Linked DNA regions of Homo sapiens. The protein of the gene in region 2 purifies or fractionates together with the protein of the main gene of each other region. This does not show direct contact. Each region holds a gene or a part of one and is shown on either strand. Other genes may lie near its edges.

The links.
Region 1: the proteins of TRPS1 (region 2) and BEND3 purify together in Homo sapiens (affinity purification with mass spectrometry; one large-scale study listed by BioGRID and IntAct). This does not show direct contact.

The regions. Positions count from the first base shown.
Region 1 is NC_000006.12:107,070,375-107,074,027, forward strand, and holds part of BEND3 (BEN domain-containing protein 3), read right to left. Parts: intron 577-3,653; coding exon 1-576. UniProt on the Homo sapiens protein: Transcriptional repressor which associates with the NoRC (nucleolar remodeling complex) complex and plays a key role in repressing rDNA transcription.
Region 2 is NC_000008.11:115,413,976-115,417,628, forward strand, and holds part of TRPS1 (zinc finger transcription factor Trps1), read right to left. Parts: intron 1,110-3,653; coding exon 48-1,109; 3' UTR 1-47. UniProt on the Homo sapiens protein: Transcriptional repressor. Binds specifically to GATA sequences and represses expression of GATA-regulated genes at selected sites and stages in vertebrate development. Regulates chondrocyte proliferation and differentiation.

The sequences.
Region 1 (3,653 bases), on a different chromosome or scaffold from region 2:
CACCAGCAAGCGGCAGGCCAGGTCCCCCCCTGACAGGCTCTGGTCCACGATCTGCTTGAGCTCTGCGGCTGTGAGCTGGTACTCAGGGGGCGGCTGGAATTTGGCCACCATCTCAGTGGGGCTCACCTGCTTCTTGATGCGGCTCACCTCAAGGGAGAGCAGGTCCACCTTGCTGTGCAGCTGGGACATGTTGGACGTGAGGGTGTTCAGCATGTAGAACATCTTCTGGATCAGGAAGTAGATGTTGGGGTCGTTGTCAGTGCCTGCCCCGGTGCTGCCACAGTCCCGCTTCTGTGGCTCATTCAGGAGCCGCAGTGACGAGGGGCTGTTGCTGGCGTTTGCCTTCTCAAAGAGCTCGTACACGTTTAGCAGGTCCCCCGAGGGAGGATTCTTCTTCTCCATGATCTTGTGCGAGATGCCATACAGAGGCTTCTTGTAGGAAGGGGTGGTGGCATCGTTGCAGGGCTCCTCCTCTCCAGGCCACACATTGCCCAGGCTCCTGCCCCTGCCGGCCTGCTCACCATTGCCTTGGCAGGGCGAGCTGTTCTCACGGTTCCGCATGCCTGCTAGGAGAGCCTGCAAAACAAAAATCATTTCCCAGAGTGTTAGGTGGGTGCTGTGGTTTATGACACTAAACAAGGGTCTGTGTAGCACACAGAGGCCGAGGTCAACCTTGGGAGCATGTAAGAAACTGATTCCTCACCCTGAATCACTCTGTCATCCAAGGATGCACCACTGATACAAACCTGCATCCCCACCACCCCAAACCTGCTGCTCTCCCCATTCCCTGAGAAAAGACTCAGGCTGGGCCCAGGGAGGCTTTGCGCTCTCACAGGGCACCAGCAGTGGACTTCCTTTCCGTCAGAGGGCTGACACTGATGCTGGCAATACTGGGCAAGAACTCTGCAAGAAACAGGAGGAAGAGCATAGGAAGGCAACGGGCTTGTGCAGCTGCCGGCCACGGGCAGGTCACCCCATGGACCCGTGCCTTCGTCTGCTCTCAGGAAGGGACAGAGATTCCTACCTATGGTAGCTCCCAAAGGCAGCAGTGTGTCCTTTTAGCCTGCAGCCTTTGGGAGAGCAGGCGTCCCTTTTCGGGAAGGCTCATCTGGGATGCATGGTCGGGGCACCTGAGAACTGGGCTGTGGAGAGCGGCTGTCTGATGCCAACTCCACCACTGCCTGAAATCACATCTTAGACCAGAAAAAGCCGGCCCAGAACTTTCTGGCCTGTGCAACTGTGAGACAGTAGAAACAACCCCCCGTTTCTGAAAAATCCACAAGTATATAAACTATGTTATATTCATACAATGGAATATTACTCAGCAATAAGATATTATTGATACAGTACACAAAGTACTCATGATAAATCTCAAAATAAATAACAAAAAAGAGGTCGTAGTGTATGATTCCATTTGTGTATGTACAATTCTAGAAAACGCAAGCTTGCCTATAGTGACAGAATGCAGATAGTCATTGCCTAGGGATGGCAGGGAGAATTCGATGGGACACAGAGAATGAAATGGAGAACGTCAGTGGGTGACAGATGTTTATCATCATGACTGTGGCTGTGGGTTCACTGGTAGACACGTGTCAAAACGTATCAAATTGTATACCTTAAATATGTATCCTTCTTTGAGTTTCAGCCATAACCTAATAAGCCTGTTTTTGACAAATGTTGAATTCGACCCAGATACTTATGTAAATGTATATTTGAGTTTTAGGAAAGCAGATGAGCTAGTCAGTGAGCGCTGGTGGGTGTCGGGGGAGCAGGGAGCCTTTGCTCCCACTGACAGGCATGTGCCTCGGGCAACTGGGAATGGACAAGAACAAACGGCATCCTGGGGTGCTTCTCTCCACACTTGGGAAGAGTACAGGTGGCTGGGACTGGCCTAGCCCAGCGCTTCTTAAGCTCTAGTGTACACACTGAATCACCTGGGGTCTTGCTGGAATGCAGAGTGTGAACCCTGGGCCTGCATCTCTAATAAGCTCCTGGGTGCTGTGGCTGCTGTCTATCCTCTCTGAGTAGCCAGGGCTTGGCAGTCAGTGTTTGCTCTCAGTTTATCTCATCCAGGCAGATCAGGGTTATTTGAAAGTTTTCAGGTAACTAATGCCAGCACAAAACAGTGCATGAGGTGTTTTTCTCTGCAGCCTCAGCCAACGTAGGGAAAAGAGACAACCTCAGAAGCGAGGCTTCGTACAGCAAGTGAGCTATATGAGGCTGAGAATAGGCAGATCCAGGGGGAATAGAAACCAAGAGCCCAAATAAACAGAAAACTTTCATCATTCTGAACCTTCCATGTGTTCTTTTTCATTTAAATTAATGAACGGCTGGGCGTGGTGGCTCACGCCTGTAATCCCAGCACTTTGGGAGGCCAAGATGGGTGGATCTCCTGAGCTCAGAAGTTCCGCCAGCCTGGGGAACATGGCGAAACACTGTCTCTACTAAAAAAATACAAAAAAAATTAGCCTGGCACAGTAGTGTGCACCTGTAGTCCCAGCTACTCAGGAGGCTGAAGTAGGAGGATAACTTGAGCCTGGGAGATGGAGGCTGCAGTGAGCTAAGATCTTGCCACTGCACCCCAGCCTGGGTGACAGAGTGAGACCCCATCTCAATAATAATTAATAAATTACTTCCTAGACTCTCTCTTTTGGATAATAGAATAATCTGACTCATATTAGAGAAATGTTAATTCTTCTCTTGTGCCCCCATGAGGACAACCATGCAAAAGAAAAACTACTCCCTTAGTGACCTTATAAAGGGACTCGTAAGTGCATTAGTTATCACAGAGCTGGCCAATACTTCCTTCAGGGTTTGTATGTGTATGTATATATATATATATATATATATATATATATATATATATATATATATATATATATATATATATGTATGTGAGCAAATGGTCAGTGGCAACTGGCCCTTGTGGACCCCACTCCCCACCCCTCCCCTCTACAGCACTCACAGGAGCAGAGGACCAAGGACATACCAGAGTGGAGGCAGCCTGTCAGGGGTGGCCAGCCACCTGCCCCACTCCCTCTGGGGTCTCCTTGCCAAGCTGTCCCCATCCTGTCAAACTGCATGATGGTTGTGCGATGGGACCACGTTGTTCCTGAGTCTATCCCCAGTGCCTAGCAAAGTGCCCAGGGTACAGAAGAGGTCAATGAATTTCTGTCAACCACACGTGAATAAAGCAGGGCAAAGTGTTCCACCATTCTCAAATACATGCTTAAGAAAAGTGAGGCCAGGTGCAGTGGCTCACACCTGTAATCCCAGTATTTTGGGAGGCTGAGGCAGGGGATCTCAAGCCCAGGAGTTCAAGACCAGCCTGGGCAACATGGTGAAACCCCACCTCTACAAAAATAAGCTGGGAGTGGTGGTGTGTGCCTGTAGTCTCAGCTACTCGGGAGGCTGAGGTAGGAGGATTGCTTCAGCCTGGGAGATTGAGGCTTCGTAAGCTGAGATCACACCACTGCACTCCAGCCTGGGCAACAGAGCAAGACCCTGTCTCAGAAAGAAAAAGAAAAGGAGAAAAAAAAGAAAAGGAGCTGTTCTGATAAGAGCACTGGCATGAAGGTGTGGCTAAGAACTCAGCTCAATCAGCAAGCATTCTGTTTGTGACCTTGTAAGCCTCACCTTCCTTTACTCAGGGT
Region 2 (3,653 bases):
CCATCAAGAAAACCTATTTCTATTTAATTGTGCTAAGTGCTAAGGTTTTACTCTTTAGGTTTTCCATTTTTTTCCACTTGTGCATTGTTCCTATGCAGGCCCCTCTGGATATGTGTTGTGAAGTCATATTTGTCCGTGCAAAGATGCTGGCATATGCTGCACTGGAAAGGTCCACTGTCACCATGGCAACTCATATGCAAAGCATACATCACTTCATCCAGAAAGACAATGCCACAGTGCACACATTTTGTTGAAAGTTCATCTTGAGTACTTCTATCAACTTTCTCTGTTTTTACTACATTCAAGGGACCTTCATTTTTTACATTTGGTGGTGCCTTCGTTTTCTCCTTGGAGGCACCGTTTGCAGTTGGCCCAGGTCTGGAATGCTTGATCGCCAAATCTAGAGGAATGTCATTGTCTGATCCAACAGCTGAAAAATGAGGAGGCAGATTGAAGGTGGGATAAGGCACATAGTTTTGGCAAGGATTTGGTAGGCCAGGCACGTGACTCAAGTAGTGCGGATTCCCAGGAACGGAGAGCTTATATTTACTCCAGAACCGCAGCCAATCAGCTTCACTCTGGAAGTCATTATGTACAAAGGGAAGTCCAAAAAGTGGGTACTGGTACTTTTCAATAGGGCTGCCTGGTGGTGAATAATTTGGGTGTTTCGCAGGTCTCATGTACTTTTCTATAGGACTGCCTCTCTCAGAACTTCCTTTCCCTTCAGATACGGATGAACTATTTCCTGGATCTCCAGTACTTTCCTGAGGACTTTTTATCTGAATGTGCAAAGGTTGCATCCTTTTGTGAATATCCAGAGTTTGGCTGACCAGGACTGGCTGCTGAGCAGAATGGCTTTTAGTCAATGAACCCTGGGCTTCGTATTTACTTAGGCTGGGGAGTGGAATTTCTCTCTGGTGACTTTCAGTTAGATGATCTTCTGACCTCCTCTCTAACGGGCTTCCATTGACTTGCTCCTCATTGCTGCCCCTCTGCTGTTTGTTGAGCTGCTCAGCCTGAAGTGCCTCTGGGTTAAGGCGCTTTCTTGTTCTCCTCCTAATAATCTGCTCACCGTTGTTTTGTTTAATGATGTTTAAAGGCCTGGGAGTCTGCAGAGAACACATACAATACATAAAAGGAAAACATTAAAAAATACATTAAAATGCATTAAAAATTCCTCACAAATATAAACCATGCTTAAGTTCAAAGCAGGGATAGGCTTTCTGCTGTAGATTTACTAAATCTCCTCCTTTTGCCCTAAGCAGGATCAGAGGAAGTAACCAAAGTGCACTATTTTAGCCTAATTAAATCATGTCCATCTTTGCAGGGGGGACTGAAAACTTTAATCTACTTGAAAATAACCTTTCCAGATGCAACAGATTTTGAGATTGCATCATTTAGTGATGAAACGGTGTAGAAAGTCACTTGAAGAGATGTGATTTTTCTGAAATTTTTTTTCAATTTTTGAGTTGTGCACTAAAATGCCAGCATATAAGAGTAACACAGGAGATACATATTGTTAACAGTGGAAAAATTACACATTGCTACAGACAGAATAAGTTTATATGTTGAAGCCCTAAACCACAGTGTGACTGTGTCTGGAGACAGGGTCCTTAGTAGGAAATTAAAGTTAAATGAGGTTGTTAAGGGTGGGGCCCTAATCCAATGGGGCTGTGGCCTTATGAGAAGAGGAAGAGAAAGAGATCTCTCTCCACTATGTGAGGGCACAGATAGAAGGTGGCTTAGTAAGGAAGACAGCCCTCCTCAGAATCCAACTATGCTGGAACCTGATCTCAGATTTCTAGCCTTCAGAATGTGAAAACATAAATGTCGGCTGTTTAAAGCTGCTCAGTTTATGGTATTTTGTTATGGAAACCTAAGCAACAAATACATGCGTGCTTCTAAATAATTGCAAATGTGGATATAAAATATTAATATCAGAGCATAAATAATCAAAGATAAACTGACAGAATTGTGAGGAAAGATATCAGGTCATCAAAGCAATAGAGAGGGATTTTTTTTTTCTTCTCATTTCTACTTCTCTCTCATTAATAATATTTTATATTTGTGATCTAAGATTTTACTTGTTAATAGTGAAGCATTAGTTTTGTGTTGAAAATCTAAATTCATGTGTAGCTTTGGTTTAAATATCTGATCTGTCATTCTACTCTTTACTTAAAGTAAGTGCTAACTTTCATTCAGCTTAAGTATTTTGTTTAGCTTAAACGTTACATGATTGGTATTTATGGACATGTTCAACAGGTATTTATATAATATGACTTAAATCCATGGATAAGACTATAATAAAAACTTTACTTGCAGTTGGAGCTCTTTGATGTATAAAATCAAAGGAATCAGTTTGATAAATTAATGCGTATTTATAGGTTAAAAATTTAGGGTAATCTTTAAATGGGCTAAAGTCTGATTTTTCTAAAAGATTACTGAAATCAGAAAATAATTTCCACATAAAACATGACTATAAATATAATTTATAAATTTAACTTTATAAATTATACATTATGTGTATATAATGTATAATTTTATAAATTATAAAATTTTAAATATAAACATAAATATTCATAAACATGTTATAATAATATAAATATAATATAAATTTAAAAAAACATAAATATAAGTGTAATTTGTAAATTATTCCTAGAAGTGATACACTTGAATGAAAGGGAGTACCTCTTGTATCTTAAATAAGTACAACTATAAATCCTTTTTGGAACATTTCTGTTGTTACAAACATACTTCCAAGTGAAGAAAGATAACACAGTTGTTATTGACAATTCATTGTTAGTTTAAGAAAGAAAATGCAACATAGCTTAGTTATGCCATGTGCATTTCTTTTGCTCAGAATATCCAGGTTTACAAAGAGTTCATATTAGCATTATAAACATATGCATTATTTAATCTATACACTGTAAAGAACCTGAAATTTGCATAAATTCCTTTTTTAAACTGTCATAACTTTTGTGTCAGTTTTTGACACAAAATGTGAACATAACCTTTATGTATTTCAATGTATGGTTTTTTAAAAAACCTGAAAACTGAAAACATCTTACCTCTGGAGAGATGAATATTAAAATAATTTTTAGAAAATAGTTTAGTTTATATCTCAGTGGTTAAGTTCCCATAATCTGGCAGAGCAGTATTTTAATTAATTTTTGCCCTATGATTGGCCAGACTTCAATTAAAATCATTAATGTCAGTTCCCATTAAATAGAAACTTATTGCTATGCTTAAATGGTGAAGGTTAAAAAAAATAAGTTGGTATGTGGTGGGGGGTGGAATCTTTCTACTTGCTACATGCTAATAACTAAGGTTTTTACAGTTTACTGCCAATTAGTAGTGTTAGCAGCATGCATTTTTTAAAGAGTGCTTCTAATGGTCCATATATGAGAACATTTTGTCTAAAAGTGTATTCCCTGTAGCCATAATGTATTCACTGGCTTGTGCTAAGAGCTATGGTAAAACGCCAAACGAAATGAAAAAGGCACAGGGAAATAAATTTTTGTTTACTAAATGGGGGATGCCTATTTTAAAGTCAGCTCTTGTCAGCAGATGAACTTGCTAAACTAAAAAAAAAAATCCTTCAGTAAGTCAAATCCATATTCAGATGGAGGATTTGTGAGTTTTAATTTTATTAC